3 linked regions of the Homo sapiens genome follow. The protein of the gene in region 1 interacts with the protein of each later gene in a pairwise test. Each region holds a gene or a part of one and is shown on either strand. Other genes may lie near its edges.

What was found. The genes of interacting proteins can lie anywhere in the genome.
Region 2: the proteins of TBC1D22B (region 1) and DEUP1 interact in binary tests that used the Homo sapiens proteins (3 or more experiments, as listed by UniProt).
Region 3: the proteins of TBC1D22B (region 1) and HSD17B14 interact in binary tests that used the Homo sapiens proteins (3 or more experiments, as listed by UniProt).

The regions. Positions count from the first base shown.
Region 1 is NC_000006.12:37,281,762-37,288,786, forward strand, and holds part of TBC1D22B (TBC1 domain family member 22B), read left to right. Parts: intron 1-423; coding exon 424-603; intron 604-1,120; coding exon 1,121-1,191; exon of another isoform or gene 1,192-1,252; intron 1,253-2,574; coding exon 2,575-2,703; intron 2,704-5,245; coding exon 5,246-5,311; intron 5,312-7,025. UniProt on the Homo sapiens protein: May act as a GTPase-activating protein for Rab family protein(s).
Region 2 is NC_000011.10:93,431,734-93,438,758, forward strand, and holds the end of DEUP1 (deuterosome assembly protein 1), read left to right. Parts: intron 1-504; coding exon of another isoform or gene 505-519; exon of another isoform or gene 520-772; intron 773-3,060; exon of another isoform or gene 3,061-3,307; intron 3,308-5,809; coding exon 5,810-5,986; 3' UTR 5,987-6,737; downstream 6,738-7,025. UniProt on the Homo sapiens protein: Key structural component of the deuterosome, a structure that promotes de novo centriole amplification in multiciliated cells.
Region 3 is NC_000019.10:48,812,501-48,819,499, forward strand, and holds the end of HSD17B14 (L-fucose dehydrogenase), read right to left. Parts: intron 2,642-6,999; coding exon 2,537-2,641; intron 1,231-2,536; coding exon 1,163-1,230; intron 1,053-1,162; coding exon 956-1,052; intron 849-955; coding exon 675-848; 3' UTR 518-674; downstream 1-517. UniProt on the Homo sapiens protein: Catalyzes the NAD(+)-dependent oxidation of L-fucose, yielding L-fucono-1,5-lactone, which rapidly converts spontaneously to L-fucone-1,4-lactone. Can also act on D-arabinose and L-galactose, with lower catalytic efficiency. Does not use NADPH.

The sequences.
Region 1 (7,025 bases):
GACTAAACTAAACTCACTATTTGGCACCAAGAAAAGTTCCAAGTTAGGGTAGAAAGAAAACATTTGATTTTCCTTTAGAGTCACCAAAAAAGTTCTCAAAAGTTGCTGCAGCATCTGGAGTCTCTGTTAGCACCTTTAGAGTCACCAAAAAAGTTCTCAAAAGTTGCTGCAGCATCTGGCGTCTCTGTTACCACCTAAGGTGCCTTGGTGTGTTTGATATAAATGCAGCCCTTTCTCTGGGCAGTGAATGGGGTGTGGCTGGGTTCTGGCCCCTCGCTGCCCTTCAGCTGGGCACCTCAGACAGTGCACACAGGCAGCCACACCCTTGGGGAGGAAACACAATGCTGAACGGTTAGGTTTAAGGCTTCTCAGAATCCATACTCCTCACACAGCCCGTTCTCTTTCTTTTTCAAATGATCTCAGGTGATACATGCCTGAGGAACCCACTCCACAAACAGCAATCACTCCCTCTCCGGCCCATCATCCCCCTCGTTGCCCGGATCTCGGATCAGAACGCTTCTGGGGCCCCCCCAATGACTGTCCGGGAGAAAACCCGCCTAGAAAAATTCCGTCAACTTCTCTCCAGCCAGAACACTGACTTAGGTGAGTCCCTGTGAGCCCAGGCAAGGTAGGAGCTTTGGGTGACTGGAATTCTCAGAGACCTGGAAGCTACTGCTCTTTATTCTTCCTTCTTTTACTTTTCTAGCTTCTCCTGACCTGGTGCCCATTGCAGTGACATGCAGGTATTAAGTCAGACATATGTTACTAGAGATTATGGACCAAATTAGGTGGGACTGGTTTCTGTGGCCTGTAGACCCTAGTGCAACTATTCTGACTTTGGTCTTCCTTATCTCAAGGTGACTCTTACTGAAATCTACACCCACTGGTCTTTCCCTTCCCCTCTAACTTTCATCTCTGAGCTGACAGGACTGCTACTGCAAGGCCGTGTCCTTGGCACTTAGCTGCTCGGGGCTGTTTTGGGCTTTTCACTGTGCTTATGGGTAGCAGGTGGTGGTGGTGGTCTTACATGGATGGAAGGAGACATCAGGCAGTGCTGGTTGCGGTTTGCTTTAGAGCATTTGTGGAGAGTTAACCTAACAAGGCTGTTTTCTATTTACAGATGAACTGAGGAAGTGTAGCTGGCCAGGGGTTCCCAGGGAGGTTCGACCTATAACCTGGAGACTCCTGTCGGTGAGTTCTACCCACTGTGTAGAGAAATGTGAGCCTCACACAGCCCTTCTTGCCTGATGAGGTTAGTCTGGACACATTGGTCTTAACTCCATAGACTTCTCTAGTCCTACTGGATATGACAGAACTATGGGACTATAGTCCTATTTCTGTGCATAAAGAAATACATTCTTGAGAGTTTATTCACACACATGTAGTGGTACACAGACTTGTACCAATAGTCATGGTGTCATGTTCTTAACAGCGAGGAAGAAGAATAGAGTGAGATAGGGTGATCCCAGCACTTGCTTTGAGTAAGCTCCAACGTTCCCTGTGCTTCACTCCTGTTTCAGCCGGAATAACCAAAAGTTGAAACCCACTTTGATCTGTGAAGAGTTGATAAATTGGCCTCCCTTGGAAGCTTTACTAGTCCTGCTTTCACCAAGTACAGAGCACTGTGCCAGCCGCTATGATAGAAACACTTGGGTTTCCTGAGCCTGTAAAATTCATTCATTCATCTAGTGAGGATTTATTGAGAGCCTGCTGTTTGCCAGGCATAGTGCCAGATGCTTTGAGCAGATGCAAAAATGAATAAACCACAGTCCCCACTCTCCAGGCACTCACTGCAGAATGCATTACATAAATGTTTTCAAGAAGAAGGGTCTGTCTCCTGACTGCTCGCCCCCACCTCTACTCTTGCAACCATGCAATCATTGCCTCTGCCACTTCTAATAAGTTTGAATACTATTCAGAGTAGATTTGGTGAGAACGGAAGGGGAACAGAAAATATAAGAATGAGAGTGGGATCTAGACCAGGGATAAGAATGAAAGTTGGCCTGGAGCTTTGGCTAGGCCGGGGGCTGCTGCCAGAAGTTCTGTCTGAGTGTTGTAGCTGTATGTCACAGATTCCATTCAGCTGCTTCCTAAGCTGGTAATTCTGAAAGTTACACTGGAAAAGAATGTAACTGGCACCAACTTACTTGGCACACTGCTGAGATGTGCTGTAGAGGTTGCTATATCCCTGCATTTCTCAGAAGTATGGCCCTGGACACACACAGCCCTCCGAGGCCATGACTTGGGTCCAGCTCCCTCCCACTGACCTACATTCACTGCTGTACTGTGCCAGCTCTGGGAGCTGAGGAGTGCTCACCAGTGGCACAAGCTCCAGCACAGTGCAGGGCCAAGGGAGTAAATAATCCTGGGAAAGCTGGCCTTGCTTCATCTGCTCACATGTGGATCTCATTGAATGAGGAGAGGGCAAAAAATGGGTGGCCAGAACCAAAAAGGGATTTACCCTTGGCAGTTTTCCTTCTTGGTAGTTTCCAAACCACTGCATAGATTAAAATAAAAATTAAGGATTTATCCAACCATTGTCTTTCCCCATCTGACCAGCAGTCTTGTCTATAGGGCTATCTCCCAGCAAACACTGAGAGGAGGAAGTTGACCCTGCAGCGGAAGCGGGAGGAATATTTTGGCTTCATTGAACAGTATTATGACTCTCGAAACGAGGAACATCACCAGGATACCTACAGACAGGTACAGTCACCACCTGCTGCCTCTTTGCTTACCAGTCATATACTTTAGGTATGTCTCATGGTAGTGCTCTCAGGGTACAGGCTTTCCAAGTCTTCAGGCTGTGGTATATTGGTTAGGAGTTAAATTTATCCTCAAAACTGTTTCCCCTCTTTTCATTCAGCAACTCTGATTTTAGCCATTTTAAATAGACAGACTTTTTTGGCACTAGTCAGTGCACTGCTTCTCAAACTTTAATGTACATACAAATCACCTAGGATCTTGATAAGATCTCACCTAGAGATTATGAGAAAATGCAGATTCTGATTTAGCAGGTCTCAGGTAAAGCCTGAAGTTCTGATGTGCTCCCTTGCAATGCTGCTGCTGCTGGTCCACCAACCACACTGTGAGTAGTAAGCGTTATCGAGCATGGAGAGGAAAGACAAGCTTACCTAGCCGTGGTCCAGTCCCTCTGGACTATGACATCAGTATGTCTTCCTGGCAGCTGCACTGCTGTTTTGGCATCTGTGACTGTAGGAGCTGTAGCTTTCAGTAGTCTTGTCAGGGAGTCTTCTGTCATTGCCCATAATGGTCCTCATGGTCTGCGGAAAGGTCTGCTCCCAACATCACATGTGGAGGGAGGAGAAGAGTAGGCCAGGGGTTGCAGAAAGTGGAAGGTGGGCAGCTATTTACAACAAGCCTCAAGAACTGAAGTAGCCTCTGCTGCTGCTGCTGCTGACACAGTCTTTTGCATAGTTAGACTGGGCACTGGGAAATCCCTGAGTTGAAATGGACTATAGTGATGTCTTAGGTAACAGAAGTAAGAACTTTCAGCTTCAGTTACTGAAGGCCAACTCCTTTTGGTCCTTCCCCACTTTTTTTTTTTTTTTTTTTTTTTTTTTGAGATGGAGTCTCACTCTGTCGTCCAGGCTGGAGTGCAGTGGCGTGATCTTGGCTCACTGCAGCCCCCACCTCCTGGATTCAGGTGATTCTCCTGCCTCGGCTTCCTGAGTAGCTGGGATTACAGGCATGTGCCACCAGGCCCGGCTAATTTTTTCTTTATCTTTTTTGAGACCGAGTCTTTTTCTGTCACTTAGGCTGGAGTGCAGTGGCGCAATCTCGGCTTGCTCCAGCCTTTGTCCGCTGGGTTCCAGCGATTCTCCTGCCTCACCCTCCTGGATAGCTGGGATTACAGGCGCACACCACCACACCCAGCTAATTTTTGTAATTTTAGTAGAGATGGGGTTTCGCCATGTTGGCCAGGCTGGTCTTGAACTCCTGGCCTCAGGTGATCCACCCACCTTGGCCTCCCAAAGTGCTGGGATTACAGGTATGAGCCACCATGTAATTTTTGTAATTTTAGTGGAGACGGGGTTTCACCATGTTGGCCAGGCTGGTCTCAAACTCCTGACCTCAAGTGATCCACCCGCCTCAGCCTCCCAAAGTGCTGGGATCACAGGCGTGAGCCATCGCCCTGGCCCTTCCCCGCTTCTTACACATCATGACTTCATAAGCAAGTTCATCTCTGGTTCCCTATTTTAGGACATTTTTGCAGCTTTCTGAGCTCTTCTAGTTCTTAGGAACTGTTGATGAGTAAGATTCTGAAAGATGGGTACCTACTTGGATCATACCTGCTACATACATGCCAGCCCAGAGTGAAACAGACTTCAGAGCAATAAGAAAAAACCCTTAATCTGTGAAGCCTATTGCCATTTGACTTTAGTGGTTTCTTTTGGGAGGTTTCCTCACTGTTTAATAAGCTATTGTTGTCATGGAAACATGTTCCACATGGGCAGGTAGGTATAACTAGATTTTTTTCCTGTGTCAGTCACTTCTTTCTGAAGATAAATTGTGTTTTCTTACTACTTTGATTTCCATTTCTTTTTTTTTTTTGAGACAGAGTCTTGCTCTGTCGCCCAGGCTGGAGTGCAGTGGCCCGATCTCGGCTCACTGCAAGCTCCACCTCCCGGGTTCACACCATTCTCCTGCCTCGGCCTCCCGAGTAGCTGGGACTACAGGCACCCGCCACCACGCCCGGCTAATTTTTTGTATTTTTAGTAGAGACAGGGTTTCACCGTGTTAGCCAGGATGGTCTCGATCTCCTGACCTCATGATCCGCCCGGCTTGGCCTCCCAAAGTGCTGGGATTACAGGCGTGAGCCACCGCACCCAGCCAGATGATTCCCATTTCTTTAAAAAAAAATTGTCAAAAGAACAAACTGGGCCAGGCACGGTGGCTCACACCTGCAATCCCAGCACTTTGGCAGGCCAAGGCGGGTGGGTCACCTGAGGTCAAGAGTTCGAGATCAGCCTGGTCAACATGGTGAAACCCCGTCTCTACTAAAAATGCAAAAATTAGCCAGGCCTGGTGGCAGGTGCCTGTAATCCCAGCTACTTGGGAGGCTGAGGCAGGAGAATCGCTTGAACCCTGGAGGCAGAGGTTGCAGTGAGCTGAGATAGTGCCATTGCACTCCAGCCTGGGGGACAAGAGCGAGACTTCATCTCAAAAAAACAAAAACAAAAAAAAACTGGCATTTGTGTTTTTGGACATGCCTTCTCTTTTTCAGATTCACATTGACATTCCAAGGACGAATCCTCTCATTCCGTTGTTCCAGCAACCACTTGTACAGGAGGTGAGGGAATTACTTAATGTTCTTTGGCGCTTCTCCCCGCATAGTTCTGTGGCACCTGTTTACAGGTTTGCGGCTAATCATAATAGTACCTTATGTTCATATATGCAGCTTTGGTTCCTTCAGAGCATGGTTTCATACATTTTCATTTGATCTTTGTTACAAATCTGTGAGCGGAATAACACTTTGAAAGGCTAAGGAACTTGCTCAGAATTTTGAGGCTACCTGGTGGCAGAATGAAGAACCCACATCTTAGAATTCCTATTCCTGTATTTGCTCTACTTTATCAAGCTGGAAGTAGTGATTTTTTAAATTGTGGTAAAATATACATAATATAAAATTTACTGTGTTAACCATTTTTTAGTGTACAGTTCAGTGGCATTAAGTACAGTCACGTTATTGTATGACCATCATCACCATCCACTTCCAGAACATTTTTCATCTTCCCAAACTGGAACTCTGTATCCATTAAATATTAACTCTCTTCTGCAGCCTCCATTCTATTTGTCTCTAAGAATTTGACTACTCCAGGCAGCTCAAATAAGTGGAATCATACAATATTTGTCCTTCTGTGACTGGCTTATTTCACTTAGCATAATATCTTTAAGGTTCATCCCTGTTGTTGCATGTGTGAATTTCCTTTTTTAAGGCTGAGTAATATTCCGTTGTACATATGTAACACATATTGTTGAGCTGTTCATCTATCAGTGGACACATGGGTTGCTTTCACCTTTTGGCTATTGTGAGTAATGCTGCTGCTAGTATGGGTATGTGAATATCTGTTTGAGTCTCTGTTTTAAATTCTTTTGGGTATATATTTAGAAGTGGGAGTAGTAGTTATATTTTGAGACCTAACAAGTTAATGAAGTACATGGAAGGTGTCAGTGGGGCTATTATGTTTTGACTCAAGCAGTAACTGTAAACTTCTTAAGATTAGGGATTTCCTTTGCAACTTTACAGTAGCCAGGACACTAAGTACTAGTGCTCTTTTAACGGAACTTTCAGTTCTCATAGTAGAGAGGGATGGTGGTTAAAATGCTGAAAATAATTTCTATTTGACTTTGGGTTATATTTATAATTTTGTTTAAATATAGATGTCTCCACTGGTGGGGTCCCTCATGTCTTACCCATAGCATAAAGAAGATTTTGAAGGTAACATCATTATTTTAACTATAAGATTCAGCTCACAGGAAGCTAAAAACCCATTCATGATCCCTTTATCCTCCCATACAGTTTTCCATGGCTCAGCACTGCTTATTCCTCATTTTAACTTGGAGATGTTCAGAGACTTTTCTTTTACCTGTGCATGCTTACTCTGAATTTGGAGATGAGGAAAGTAGTCAGTTTAAAAGGCTTCTCAGCCAGGCGTGATGACTCACTCCTATAATCCCAGCACTTTGGGAGGCCAAGGCCAGAGGGATTGCTTGAGCCCACGAGTTTGAGACCAGCCTGAGCCTAGGAGTTTGAGACCAGTCTGGGTAACATAGCAAGACCCTGTCTCAAAAAAATTACAGAATTAGCCAGGCATGGTGGTGTGTGCCTGTGCTACTGTGCCTGTGCTACTTGGGAGGCTGAGGAGGGAGGATCTCTTGAGCCCAGGTGGTCAAAGCTGCAATGAGCCATGATCGTGCTACTGCACTCCAGCCTGGGTGACAGAGCAAGATCCTGTCTCAAAAAAAAAAAAAAAAAGAGGTTGGGGGGTGGTGGCTTCTTTTAG
Region 2 (7,025 bases), on another chromosome or scaffold:
AACATATTAGATCCAGGAAATATTCTGGTGTGTAGACCAGACTTGACAATGAATTGTTTATGGGAAGTGGGAGAAAAGAGTGATTAAAGATGACTCCTAGGATTTCAACCTGAGCATTGAGTAGATGCTAATACCACTTTCCGACATGGGAAGACTAGGGAAGAAATAGGGTTAGAGGAGTAATCATGATTTCTAGGTTGGGCATATAAGTTTAAAATGTTTACTAGACACCCAAACGTAGACATTAAATAGTCAATAGGATATGTGAATCTGATATTCGAGGGAGAGATCAAAGCTGGAAATACAAATGTGGGAATAATCGGCATATGGTTGGTATTTAAGTCTATAGAACTGGATGAAAATACTGAAGTATAAAAAAGAAATCATCCCAATACAAAGCCTTGGGTCATAATATTGAGTGACCTAATGGGAATCCTGAAGGACAGGAGGAAAGTTTGATAATGAAGAGGATGGGGCTCAAGGAGGGTCCTCTTTCATTTGCAGAAACAAAGTCACTGAGAGGTAAGAAGAAATAGGATCTGCAGTATAGGAGGAAGGATGAGTTTCTGAAACAGGAGGATGGCCTAAAATTCAGCTACAGATACAAATGGATGTGGAATAATGAGGGAGCTCCCCTCTGACTCCTAGGAGGAAGCCAGGCCACAACGTAATGAGTAAGAAAGTGAACATACTAGGGAAGTGCAATAGAATCGCCTTGCAGTGTTCACTGACCACATGATATTTATGGTCATGAATTTAAAGTGAAACTAGTCCATGCAGTAATTTACCCCCAACCTGTTGGCTCCAGCATTCAGCTGCTCAGGTGTAGGCAAGACCCGGGCAGATGGGCCAGCTTAATTAGGGGTGGGTTTTACCAGGTTATTAGGATAGAGACAAGATACAGGGGTTTACCAGGTAATGAGGATAGAGACAAGATACAGGGAGGGACAAGTTGCTGAATGGTTATGAGATGGACGGGAATAAGCAGAGTTAGGAAGAGAGAGTATGAGGAAGATGATGGATAGTGAAAAGTAAAGAGTCTAAATGAGGTCAGAGAAATGCTGGCGTGGGAGTACTAGATTAAGCATGCTGGAAGGATGATGGATAGGTTGCTTTAAATCTCAATTAGTAAATAATGCAGTTCTCATTGATGATAGTGTCAAGGACATGCTATGTGGGTGGATGCCTGACATGAAGGATTCTTCAGGGCTCCATCTTTTAACTTCTTTTTTTCCTTTTACTTGCCTATCTTGGATAATTTCAGTCAATCTCATGGCCTTGTCATCTATAACTTCCAAGTCTGTCTCTCTGATTCAGACCTATATTCTGAGTCCTAGATTGACATATCTCACTGTTTACTTGAGTCTGTTTAAGTCTCAAGTCACCTCAAACTCATTATTATTCAAAATTGAATCCATTTTCTTCATTCATAAACTAACTAAAAAATTTTATTGAAAACACACTGGCCTAGAATCTGTGCTAGAACCTGATGAATCAGAAATAAGTAAGAGGCCAGGAGCTGTGGCTCACACCTACAATCTCAGGCCAAGGCAAGAGGGATTGCTTGAGCCCAAGAGTTCAAGACCAGTCTGGGCAACATAATGAGGCTCCGTTTCTATAAAAACTTTTTTAAAAAAGAGCTGGGTGTGGTGGTGTGTGCCTATAGTCCCACCTACTCAGGAGGCTGAAGTGGGAGGATCACTTGAGCCCAGGAGCTGGAAGTTAAGAGTTAGCTGTGGTTGCACCACTGTGCTCCAGCCTGGGCAATAGAGCAAGACACTGTCTCTAAATCAATCAATCAATCAATCAATCCATAAAAAGAAAGAAAGAATATCTTACTCTTAATGGCTTCCTTTACCTTTTTCTCTTTCTCAGTAAATGGCATGAGTGTCACTAATCACTCAGGCCAGAATCTAGGAAGTCATCTCTCTGAGATCAGGTTTCCTAGAATCTGAGATGAGATTCTTGTGAAAGCGATTTACCGAGGGAGTATTTTAGTATTTTCAGGAGGAGAGTGAAGGAGACAGGCTAGGGAAGGGGAGGAAAATTAAGCAAAGATGTGGTCTGAGCTACAAACTAGTATAGCCTGGTGTCCCAGGAAGCTTGGCACATGAATTGCACCACAGCATTTGTTCTCACCAAACAAAAAGTTTGGTATTTTACGCCCCTGTGTCCATCAATCAGTCATTGCCTCAGAGAGGATAGCAAATGGGCAGAGGAGGGACTGCAGCCTCCCAGGTGAGGCAGGAGCCTCCAGTTCGGTGGAGGGCAGTTCCCCAAAGGAGCCAGCTGTGAGCTGTTAGTAGCCAACACCCACCCAGCTAGAGGAGAGATGCATCAGCCTGGGGAAGGGGATCCGGGTAGGGGACCAACCACCATGGTCAACCTGTTGCACCACTCAGAACCACCTTCTTCCATAGCTTCCATTCAGGCATAGCTTCTTCACGATTCTTGCTGGTCATAATTTCTGGAAAAACTGTTGAGAGGAAAGTTAGTGAGATAAGCCACAGCCCCTCATGCTGCAATTGGTCGCTGACACCTATCACTGCCTCACCCATTCTAGATTCCTCTCCCCGTCAGCCAACTCTTCTGTTGATCCAGGTGGCTTTTCTTTTGGGGTGAGCCCCTAATGTCCATGCCCTTATTAGGATATGGTTTCTGTATTTGCCAATTAAAATTAAAATTGGGCATGAGAGTACCAAAAGATGCCTCAGAGGATCATCAGAGTACCAAACACATTCCTCACTGCCTCTGTTATGCAGTAGCAATCTTAACTCTTCAGGATGACTTAGGGTCAGCTACCTCTGCCAATATAGGAACTCCACTCTGTGTGTCTGATCTGTTGGCATGAGGAGCCCAAAGTGACCACATGGGAGCCAAAGCTCTAAGTTTGGTGGGACTCTTACAGGTCTCTTGGTAGAAGCATTCCGCCTCTAAGAGCCAGGACCTGTAGAACAACAGAGCCTAAAGATACATAGACAGAAAGCACAGATTCTCCAAGTGGGTTAACAGAAGTGATAGAGAGTGAAGCCATTCCTACTTCCTCCCTTTTGTTCCCAGATCCATGTATTCTACCCATTGGAAACACAGAACCATAAAACAGCCATCGGTTTAAAGTCTATACCACATCCTGAAGAATGGCACCCCAACCTCACAGGATATAATCTCCAAGCTGGTGCCTCAGCTTTGCCCTCAAGAGGCCGTCCCAAAGCTCTATCATGTTAGCATCCTCTGGATAGTGCTGTGTGTGGTTAGGACCAGTGGATACCATGGTCGTGCCCCCACTGCCATACTCTTTTGCTATAAAGTAGGTACCTTTACTATTAAGCAGGGTCTCTCTCATGTCTGCAGATAAGTGATTCTGTGAGCCCTAAGATAGTGGTGCAGCCAGGAAAGGCAAACACGCAGAATTCATATCCATTCTGATAAGCATACAGCATTGCCCTTTCCAAGGTGCTAGGGACCTATTGCAGTCAAGTTGCCACCAAGAGGCTGGCTGGTCTCCTTGAGGGATGATGCCATATCAAGAGCTCAGCTTTGGTTTCTGTTGCAAGCAGGTCAGACATTCAACAGCAATAGCAGCTGGATTACCCTTGGTGAAAGGGGAAATCATGGTATTGGGATGATGCATAATTCCCACTGAGGTAGCCAAAGACAAAGGCTGGATCAAATCATCCTGTCCACTTGCTGGAGTCTCAACCAGGACTCAACAGCATGACAAGAATTGTCTTGCAAATAGTATATAGGTTTCTGCTACAGATAGCATAGCCTTGTTCCAGAATCTTAAGGGTCTGCAACACAGCTTTCCCGATGAAACTTGCCAGAGGCTCCACAAGGCATTTTTCTTTACCAGAGATTCTTCTAGTATGGGATCTACCAAGTTATTTGACCAAAGTAGCAGGACTACTTGTACCCTATCCTGAACCTCCTACACAGCTCTTTCTTTCCAGAGTTCTGGGCTTTCTCACAAAATAATTTTTTCACCAGGCATGGTGGCTCACGCCTGTAATCCCAGCACTTTGGGAGGCCGAGGAGGGCAGATCACGAGGTCAGGAGATCGAGACCATCCTGGCTAACATGGTGAAACCCCGTCTCTACTAAAAATACAAAAAATTAGCCGGGAGTGGTGGCGGGCGCCTGTAGTCCCAGCTACTCGGGAGGCTGAGGCAGGAGAATGGCGTGAACCCGGGAGGTGGAGCTTGCAGTGAGCCGAGATCACGCCACTGCACTCCAGTGTGGGCGACAGAGTGAGACTCCGTCTCAAAAAAAAAAAAAAAAAATTTTTTCTGTGTCACCCAATAAATGAATCAGATTATTCAATTATTTGATCCAAGGGTGGAACATTTTCAAGGTGCATTAATTTTTGCTTTACCTAGGATGTTCTGACATGCCACATAGCAGTAGACACCTAAAAACAATGTGTCAAGCCCCAATCTTTTATGGGGTTTATCTTTCACCTTCTGGAGTACATACATCTTTCCATCCCTTTAACATACTTGCCACTTCTTGCTCATCAAGTCTCATTAACATGATGTTAGTGTTAATATATGATGTTCCATGTGATAGTCTTTGGAATGTCCAGATGGGCTAGGCCCCTTCAGAATTTATTGTGACAGCTTCATTAACATAACTTTGGGGCAAAACCATGGATATATATTGTTGGCCACCACATGTGAATGCTAACTGCTTCCTATCCTCCTTTTTATTAGATATTAAAAAGAATGCATTTGCCAATATTAAAAATAATGCATTTGCCAGATCAATAGTAGCATACCATCTACCCCAGGCTGTGATAGTCTTCTCTAGTAGAGATACTATCCCTGACACAGCAGCTACAGTTGGGCCTACTGGTTGGAAAAGTGTGCAGTACTCCATCATTTGCATGATCCCTAGTTTTGGCAGGGGCCAGATTGGTGAACAAAATCCACCTAACAAGGTTCACATGTATACAGATTGTCGACTCCCCAAACACTACATAAAGTCCCATTCTTCCTACCAAAATGAAAATCAAAGAAGAATATAGCAACCACAGAACTGGAAAATTAAAGTACAGATTTCCCCAACAAAAAAAAATTACTTAATTTTTGTATGTGGCTTTTCAAAACGAAGAATTGTAAAATTATCTGATGTTGTCCTTTATTCTTTAGCCACAGATTTTTATTTTTTTTTAAATAAGCACTAAACAGGTCACAAACAATTAAATAGCATTTTCATGTCACCATGAAGGGTGGAATTGGGGCACTTGTCCCTGATACTTTCTTCTCTGTGATAAGACAAACAAGATACATGCCAGCATCAAGCCTTCCCTACTAGGGAGCCACCTCCACCCCAAGACACATCATGCAGCCAGCCCTCTCACCTGGCTAACTCCAAGCATTGATTCTCCCTGTCAAAGCCAATCCTTATTTTCTTCTCTATAAACTGTCTAGTGCAATTCCACTATAATCTTTACTTTAGCTTTTTGGAGTTGCCTATTTTCAAATGAAAATCATTGGCTTTGCAAATGATTGCAGCATGTTTTAGGCAGGTTCCATGGTGAGTGCATTGTCCCTGCATTTGCAGTTGGACAATATAACACTCATTTGTAGAGCTTTTTAATGTAATGGTGCTGTGATGTCTTACTTAGTTCCTTGAGGATTTCATTAGTGGTAACTGAATTACACTAGTAGTGGGAATTCAGCCCAGGATGTATTCTTTCATTAAGAGCTGCGGTGTTTGACAGTATGTCAGGGATGAAGCATGCCTGGAAATGGGAAGATTTTTTAAAGCTCTGTATTCCTCACTCACTTTTCTTTCTTTCTCTCTTTAGTCTCCCCCAGATATGTCCTTCCCAGCATCTTTGGCTGCACAGCATTTCCTTCTGGAAGAAGAGAAACGAGCAAAAGAACTTGAAAAACTTCTAAATACACATATTGATGAACTGCAAAGACACACAGAATTTACTCTTAATAAATACTCCAAGCTAAAACAAAATAGACACATATGAGCTTTTAAACTTTTTTATTTGCTTCCCCCCCCCACCCCCGCCAAGAAAAAAAGCTCTGGCAAAATATTTACAAAGCTGATTAATGAAACCAAGAAATTCTGTTCTGTTTCCTTGAGTAAATAATTTCCGTAAGGCAGCTAGAAAATAGTAAGTATTTTGTTCTATAAAGCTGTTCACATTTCTGCATTAACATGCTAAATTGTCCTGCTGTAGAGTTACTATAAAATAAACATGACTATTCCAAAAGAGATTTTTTTCCAGTCTAAGGAATATTTTGGAATCAAATATGCAGTTTTTTTTCCCCACTTGAATCATGTATACTGAAAACCCATTTCCTCAGCAACTACACAAAATAAGAGAAAGGGAAGTGCTATATTCCAGATACAAATGACTCAAAGGCAGCTCAGTTGTACTGGTTTTGAAAACTCAAGGATTTTATAAATAAAAATATTTAAGTATTTCCAGTTATGTAAACACTCTAAAATTCTATAATTTTTTGGAAAAAAAAAGCTATAGCTTTATTGTTTTTACATTCACCTTTATAATGTCTGTCTGTTTCAACACAATGAAGGTATATGGAATGTGCAATTTACAAACCTAAAATATATGTGCCAAAAATTAACGCTTTTTTGTTAGTACTAATTACTTCATGGACACAAACAAGATAAAGGAAATATAAAGCATTACTGTTGCTACATTTTCCTTTGTAATCACTTCTGTTTTTAATACAATAAAGGAATGTAAAATTCAATGGACTTGAAGCATAAATGCTAAATCTGTATAGAACAGTAATAGCATGGCTGTGAACAATAAAACAGAGTTACAAATACACAGCAATAATACAATATACTTTAAGAGTTTCACATATGTGTGTGTGTGTATATATATGTCTCTCTCTCTCTCTATATATATATATATATGTATATATGAAGAGAGATTATGAAAGAAGGTAAGTCCTACTACAGCTTTTACAGTTCTCTATTTCCCTTTAAAGAAACAATCTCATCATACTGAAAGATAAACCAAAATGCCATTAGAT
Region 3 (6,999 bases), on another chromosome or scaffold:
CGCACCCGGGCCCTGCCCCCCCCCTGGGTCCAGCTGGGGAGTCTGCGTCCCCCAGTGCCCTGCGGACCAAAACCCAGGAGTTTCAGCCCCTCCTCCCTCTGATCCAGATGTCTCAACCCCCTACTTTCTCTTCCCTTTGGACTTTTCTTGCCAGCCACCTTCCTATTCTACAGGCAGTGAGAGGAAAACTCCTTTTCCCTGAGGGCCAAGAGTAAGAGGGCCTTCTGCGTCTCCCCCTCCATTACCTCCTAATTAGCGCTTAATTTACTCTCCCCTGCGGGCCTTTAGTTAGCGCGCTGGTGAAGCCAAACCGCTCTACCCTTCCCAGGAGCCCCTGGCGACAGCGACAGGGCTAGCAACATCAGGCACCTGCTTGCTGCAAGGCCTGGGGTTGGGGGGCGGGGGGAGCTGCAGTCCTTCAGGGTCGAGGCAACTTGTGGGTCTGGGGTGCAAGGGCTAAGTGGGGCAGAAGGACTCGTCTAAAGGATGGGAAATAAATATAACGATATCCTCCTCCTTCTGGCTGCAAATCGTTTTTATGGGAACCTGCAGGGTGACCCGGCACCTTGCTAACTGGGCTTAGAGTCTAAGGGCTTGGGGGCTGCATCTGATACAGGTTGGAGTTTGGGGTGGGAGAGTCCTAGGAAGGGGGCCCCAAGTAGAAATGAGAGAAATCAGGAAGGGATATCGGGGGCGTCCACGGGGGTGCTCCGACTGGCCTTGCACCCGTACCCCAGCTCTGCACCCCCCGTCACGAGCAGTTCAATGCCCGTGCAGAAGTTGGCTTCGGAGGCCAGGAACACTGCCGCAGCCCCGACCTCAGCGGGCTGGCCCATGCGGCCCAGTGGCTGGGGAGAAAAGAGGGGGGAAGGAGGTCAAGAGGAGCCCCACTTGATCGCCATGCCCCCCACCCCCATGCCACCTTCTACCACCTGGATCTGAACCCCACTTCTACCTGGGCCAGCATGCCCTCTCGGATTGTGGCCCTAGGGTCTGGCATTAAGGCTGCCAGCTCCTCCCACAGCGGGGTCCAGATGTTTCCTGGGGAGATACTAGAGGAAGGGAGAGGGGGGATCAAAGCAATCTGTCTCGAACCACTTGGGATCACTCCCAGTCACCCCAGTCCCCCCAGGAGGCTCTCCGCCTGCTCAGAGCAGCTCACCAGTTGACTCGGACACCATATGGACTTTCATCCAGGGCCAAAGCTTTGGTCATGGCTGTTACTGCCCCCTGCAGGAAATGGAGCGGGGAAGAAAGTTCAGTCCCCGGGACATGGGGTCCCTGCCATCCATTGTCTCCTGCCAGCCAGGGGGGCATCAGAATGGGGAAGTCATGCCCTCCTTGAAGGCTGCCTTCAGAGGCACCAGGCTTGGTTTCTTGGGAGAAACTTGGCATAGAAATCTGTCACAGGAAGGCCAGGTGCAGTGGCTCACACCTGTAATCCCAGCACTTTGGGAGGCCGGGATGGGTGGATCACTTGGGCCAGGAGTTCGAGACCAGCCTGGCCAACATGGCAAAACCCCATCTCTGCTAAAAATACAAAAATTAACCGGACATGGTGGTGCACGCCTGTAATCCCAGCTACTGGGGAGGCTGAGGCGTGAGAATCGCTTGAACCCATGAGGCAGGGGTTGCAGTGAGCTGAGATCATGCCACCACACTGCAACCTGGGTGACAGAGTGAGACCCTATCTAAAAAAAAAAAGAAGAAAAGAAAAGAAAAGAAAAAAAGAAAGTTAGCCGGGCACAGTGGCTCATGCCTGTAATCCCAGCACTTTGGGAGGCCGAGGTGGGTGGATCACCTGAGGTCGGGAGTTCGAGACCAGCCTGACCAACATGGTGAAATCTCGTCTCTACTAAAAAATACAAAAATCTAGCTGGGCGTGGTGACAGCCACCTGTAATCTCAGCTACTTGGGAGGCTGAGGCAGGAGAATCACTTGAACCCGGGAGGCGGAGGTTGCAGTGAGCCAAGATCACACCATTGCACTCCAACCTGGGCAATAAGAGCGAAACTCCATCTCAAAAAAAAAGAAAGAAAGAAAAGAAAAAACAGAAATCTGCTGGGTGCGGTGGCTCATGCCTGTAATCCCAGCACTTTGGGAGGCCAAGGCAGGCAGATCATGAAGTCAGAAGATCGAGACCATCCTGGCTAACATGGTGAAACCCCGTCTCTACTAAAAAATACAAAAAAAATTAGCTGGGTGCGGTGGCATGCGCCTGTAGTCCCAGCTACTCGGGAGGCTGAGTCAGGAGAATCCCTTGAACCCAGGAGGCAGAGGTTGCAGCTGAGATTGCACCACTGAACTCCAGCCTGGTGACAGAGCGAGACTCCATCTTTAAAAAAAAAAAAAGAAAAGAAAAGAAAAAACAGAAATCTGTCACAGGCAGTTATGCCTGGGTGCTGCATCTGGGAGTTAGGTGTGAGACTTTCTAGGGCCAAGATCTTGCTAGGTCTGGCTCCTAAGTTGTCTGGACTCAAAGCCAAGGCCCATGGGAAGGAGTAGGGAGGGAAGGAAGGGGTAGGGGCTGCCATACCTTGGTGGCCACATAGGGAACTGCCTGGGCCTGGCCGATTGCCCCCACCAGGCTGGAGATGTTGATGACATTCCCTTGACTCTTCCGCAGGTAGGGGAGGGCGAGCTAGGGAGACAAGAGGCCAAGTAAGCTACACAAGCCCTGCATCTTCGCAGACCACTGAAACACAGCCACAGCCATCCTGATGTCTGGGATGACGGCCACCTCCCTGGCATGTTTCTAGTTGATCTCAGTGACTGCTAGAGACGGCATCTAACATAACACCCTCTCTGGTTTGCCCTGGGGTCGCTGGGTCTCAGCACTCAAGGAGTCTCTCCTTGGTGGGAAGGGATTTCTCTCTCTTCTCCTCGGTCTCTGACTCTGTCTTTGTCTCTACCTCTGTCCCTTCTCCCTTGGTCTTTGTATGTTACTCAAATTCCTGTCCATATCAAGACAGGAAAATGGATGAGAGATCCAGAAGGCTGCATATTTTTCAAAAATGGGATGAAGTTATTTTCCGGTGAAGTCTCTGTGGCCCAGGCTGGACTGCAGTGGCACGATCATAGCTCACTGCAGCCTCGAACTCCTGGGCTCAAGCAATCCTCCCCGCTCGGCCTCCCAAAGTGTTGGGATTACAGGCACGAGGCATCACACCCAGCCAGGAAGTTCTTTTATCCATGGAGGGGGAGATGGTTTCTATGAGGCCTTCATGAAAGGCACTCTAGACCAGGCACAGTGTCTCACACCTGTAATCCCAGCACTTTGGGAGGCTGAGGTGGGTGGATCATCTGAGGTCAGAATTTTGAGACCAGCCTGGCCAACATGATGAAACCCCATCTCTACTAAAAATACAAAATTAGCCAGGCATGGTGGTGCATTCCTGTAATCTCAGCTACTTGGGAGGCTGAGGCAGGAGAACTACTTGAACCCGGGAGGTGGAGGTTGCAGTGAGCCAAGATTGCGCTACTGCACTCGAGCCTGGGCAACAGAGCAAGACTCCGTTTCAGAAAAAAAAAAAAAAAAAAAAAGAAATGCACTGTTTCCTGCCACCGTTTCTCCTGCAATTCAACTCCCTGGCCACCTGGGAAGTCCCTAAATACTCTCTCTGTGTGTGTGCGTGTGTGTTCGTTGACTACACATGACCTTGGATAAACTCAAATTCTATCTTTGATCTCGCTTGCCTTAGAAAGCTGAGCTGGCCAGGCAAGGCCTGTCCCTGCCACTTAAGACTAATTGGTACAAGGCAGCACCCCTAGCAGGCTCTCCGAGTGGGAATCTAAATGAGCTCCCTGCCCGGTTCCCCCCACCAACTCTTTCAAGCCATTTCTGCTCCCCTCCCAAACGACCTCCACCCTTTTCCGTGCTGTATCTTCGACACACCCTGCGTGTTCAAACCTCAGGGCCTTTGAACTTGCTGTTCCCTCTGCCTGGAGTGCCTTTTCCTAAGAGAGCCACATGACCCACTCTTAGGGTGGCCAGCCATCCCAGTTTGCCCAGGACTGAAGGGTTTTTGGGGACATGGTATTTTCAGTCCACAGTGTCAATGCTAAACGGGGACTTTCCTGGGTAAACACTCCCTCAGCTCCCTCAAACCCTGATCCGAGGTCACCTCCTCAGTGAGGTCTTCCCTGGCTATACTGTTTAAAGCTGCAAGCCAGGATCACTAGCTCACACCTGTAATCCTTGCACTTTGGGAAGCCGAGGAGGGAGGATTGCTTGAACCCAGGTGTTTGAGGCCAGCATGGGCAGCTTAGCAAGACCCTTTTTCTTTCTTTCTTTCTTTCTTTCTTTCTTTCTTTCTTTCTTTCTTTTCTTTCTCTCTCTCTCTCTCTTTCTTTCAGATAGGGTATCACTCTGTTGTCTAGGCTGGAATGCAGTGGTGCAATCTCAGCTCATTGCAACCTCCACTTCCCAGGTTCAAGCAATTCTCCTGCCTCGGCTTCCCGAGTAGCTGGGACTACAGGCATGTGCCCCCACACCAGGATAATTTTTTTTTTTTTTTTTTTTTTTTAGTGGAGACAGGGTTTCACTATATTAGCCAGGCTGGTCTCGAACTCCTGATCTCACATGATCTGCCTGGCTCGGCCTCCCAAAGTGCTGGGATTCCAGGCTTGAGCCACTGTGCCTGGCCTGTCTTTATTTTTTTTAACAACAAAAAAATATTTTTTGTTTTATTTTTTGAGACAGAGTCTCACTCTGTTGCCCAGGCTGGAGTGCAGTGATGTCATCTTGGCTCACTGCAACCTCCTCCCCCCAGGTTCAAGCCCTTCTCCTGCCTCAGTCTCCTGAGTAGCTGGGACTACAGGCATGTGTCACCATGCCTGGCTAATTTTTGTATTTTTTAGTAGAGATGGGGTTTCACCATGTTAGCCAGGCTGGTCTTGAACTCCTGAGGTCAAGTAATCTGCCTGCTTCGGCCTCCCAAAGTGCTGGGATTACAGGCGTCAGCCACCACGCCTGGCCCCAAAAAATAAAATAATAAAATAAAACTGCAGTTCCCACACCCCTGGGTCCCCTTCCCTCTTTCAGATGTCTTTTCTCTGTGTCACACACTCCCTTCTGACAGGCCATATATATTTTACTTGTTTGTTCATGTTCTGTCTCTCCCACCAGCATGCAGAAACCTATGAGGGATGGTCAAGATTTCTTATTTTGTTTCTTCCCCAGCACTAAAGGTGCCTGGCACATAGCACATGCTTCATAAATATCCTTTGAATGAATGAATGGGTGAATTAATGAATGAATGGAGGACCTGGTATGTGTCCAGCCCTGTCCTCAGCAATTTACATGGATTAGCTCATTTCATCCCTCTAACATTCTCCTGTACCTACAAGAAGGAGGTACAGCTGAGAGTCCCATTTCACAAGCGAGGAGACTAAGGAATGGAGGGATGATTGACGCCCGCAGGGCATCACGTGACACCTGACAGCACCAGCATTTGCTGCTGGACAGGCTGAGACCCAAACCCATAAACAAACAACAATTTCTCACAATTCTAAGTATTAAGAACTTTAGGCCAGGCACAGTGGCTCACACCTGTAATCCTAGAACTTTGGGAGGCTGAGGCGGGCAGTCACCTGAGGTCAGGAGTTCAAGACCAGACTGGTCAACATGGCAAAACCCCATCTCTACTAAAAATACAAAAATTAGCCGGGTGTGGTGGTGCGTGCCTGTAATCCCAGCTACTCGGGAGGCTGAGGCAGGAGAATCTCTTGATCCCGGGAGGCAGAGGTTGCAGTAAGCCACAATCGCACCACTGCACTCCAGCCTGGGCAGCAGATAAAGACTGTCTCAAAAAAAAAGAAAAAAGAAAAAAGAAAAAGAGAAACCATGCTCTAATATGAACGTGAATGATGTGGGCATTGACCAGCCTCTGCCCTCCTCCTCAGGGAACCTCTCATCCTCGCCTCCTCTCACTCCCACCAGCCGTGACACCCTCCCTCCCTCCCAGTGCCCACCCCACCTGCCTTGCTCCATTTCTCTCTCAGTCTGTGCACCTGCCCTGCTGTTTAATCTCCTCCCCCACCTGACCCTGCAAACATGAGTCTCACCAGGGCTGAGACACGGATCTTGCCACCCTCACCCCAGCACGAGGCACACAGCTGGAGCTCAGTAAATATTTGTCCCACACTCCCTGAGTGTCCTTCTCCCCACACCCCTCAAGGTTGCTAAGCACCTGCTCTATATCAAGGACCCGCTGGGGGCCAGGTGCAGTGGCAGGTACCTGTAATGTCAGTGCTTTGGGAGACTGAGGTGGGAGGATCGCTTCAGTCCAGAAGTTCAAGGCCAGCCTGGGCAACATACTGAGACCCCAGTTCTTAAGTGCCAAGGTTCTGAGACAGGAGCAGGCCTGTTGTGTTTGGGAGCAATGAGGCCAGTGTGGCCGGAGGTGAGGTCAGAGAAGAACAGGGGCCAGATCACGAGGCCTTGAAGGCCCCCACTTCTCCCTTGGACAAATGCAATCAACTCCTTTTTTTGTTTGTTTGTTTCAGAGACAGAGTATTGCTCTGTCACCCAGGCTTGAGTGCAGTGGCACGATCTCGGCTCACTGCAACCTCCACCTCCCAGGTTCAAGCAATTCTTCTGCCTCAGCCTCCCGAGTAGCTGGGATTACGGGCGCCTACCACCACGCCTGGCTAATTTTTGTATTTTTAGTAGCAACGGGGTTTCTCCATGTTGGCCAGACTGGTTTCGAACTCCTGACCTCAGGCAACCTGCCCACCTCGGCCTCCCAAAGTGCTGGGATTACAGGCGTGAGCCACCATGCCCAGCTCAAATGCAATCAACTCCTAATACTGGTTCTCCCACTCTCACGCTTAACCCTCAGATTTGTCCCTCATACCTACAGGAGCCAGAGCCTATGATCTGTTAATAATACTAACAGGATCACATCACTCCCTTGCTCAAATACCTGCCACAGCTCCCTATTGCTCTTGACATAAAGACCAGATGATTCAGCATGCCCTTCAAGGCCCTGCCTGATC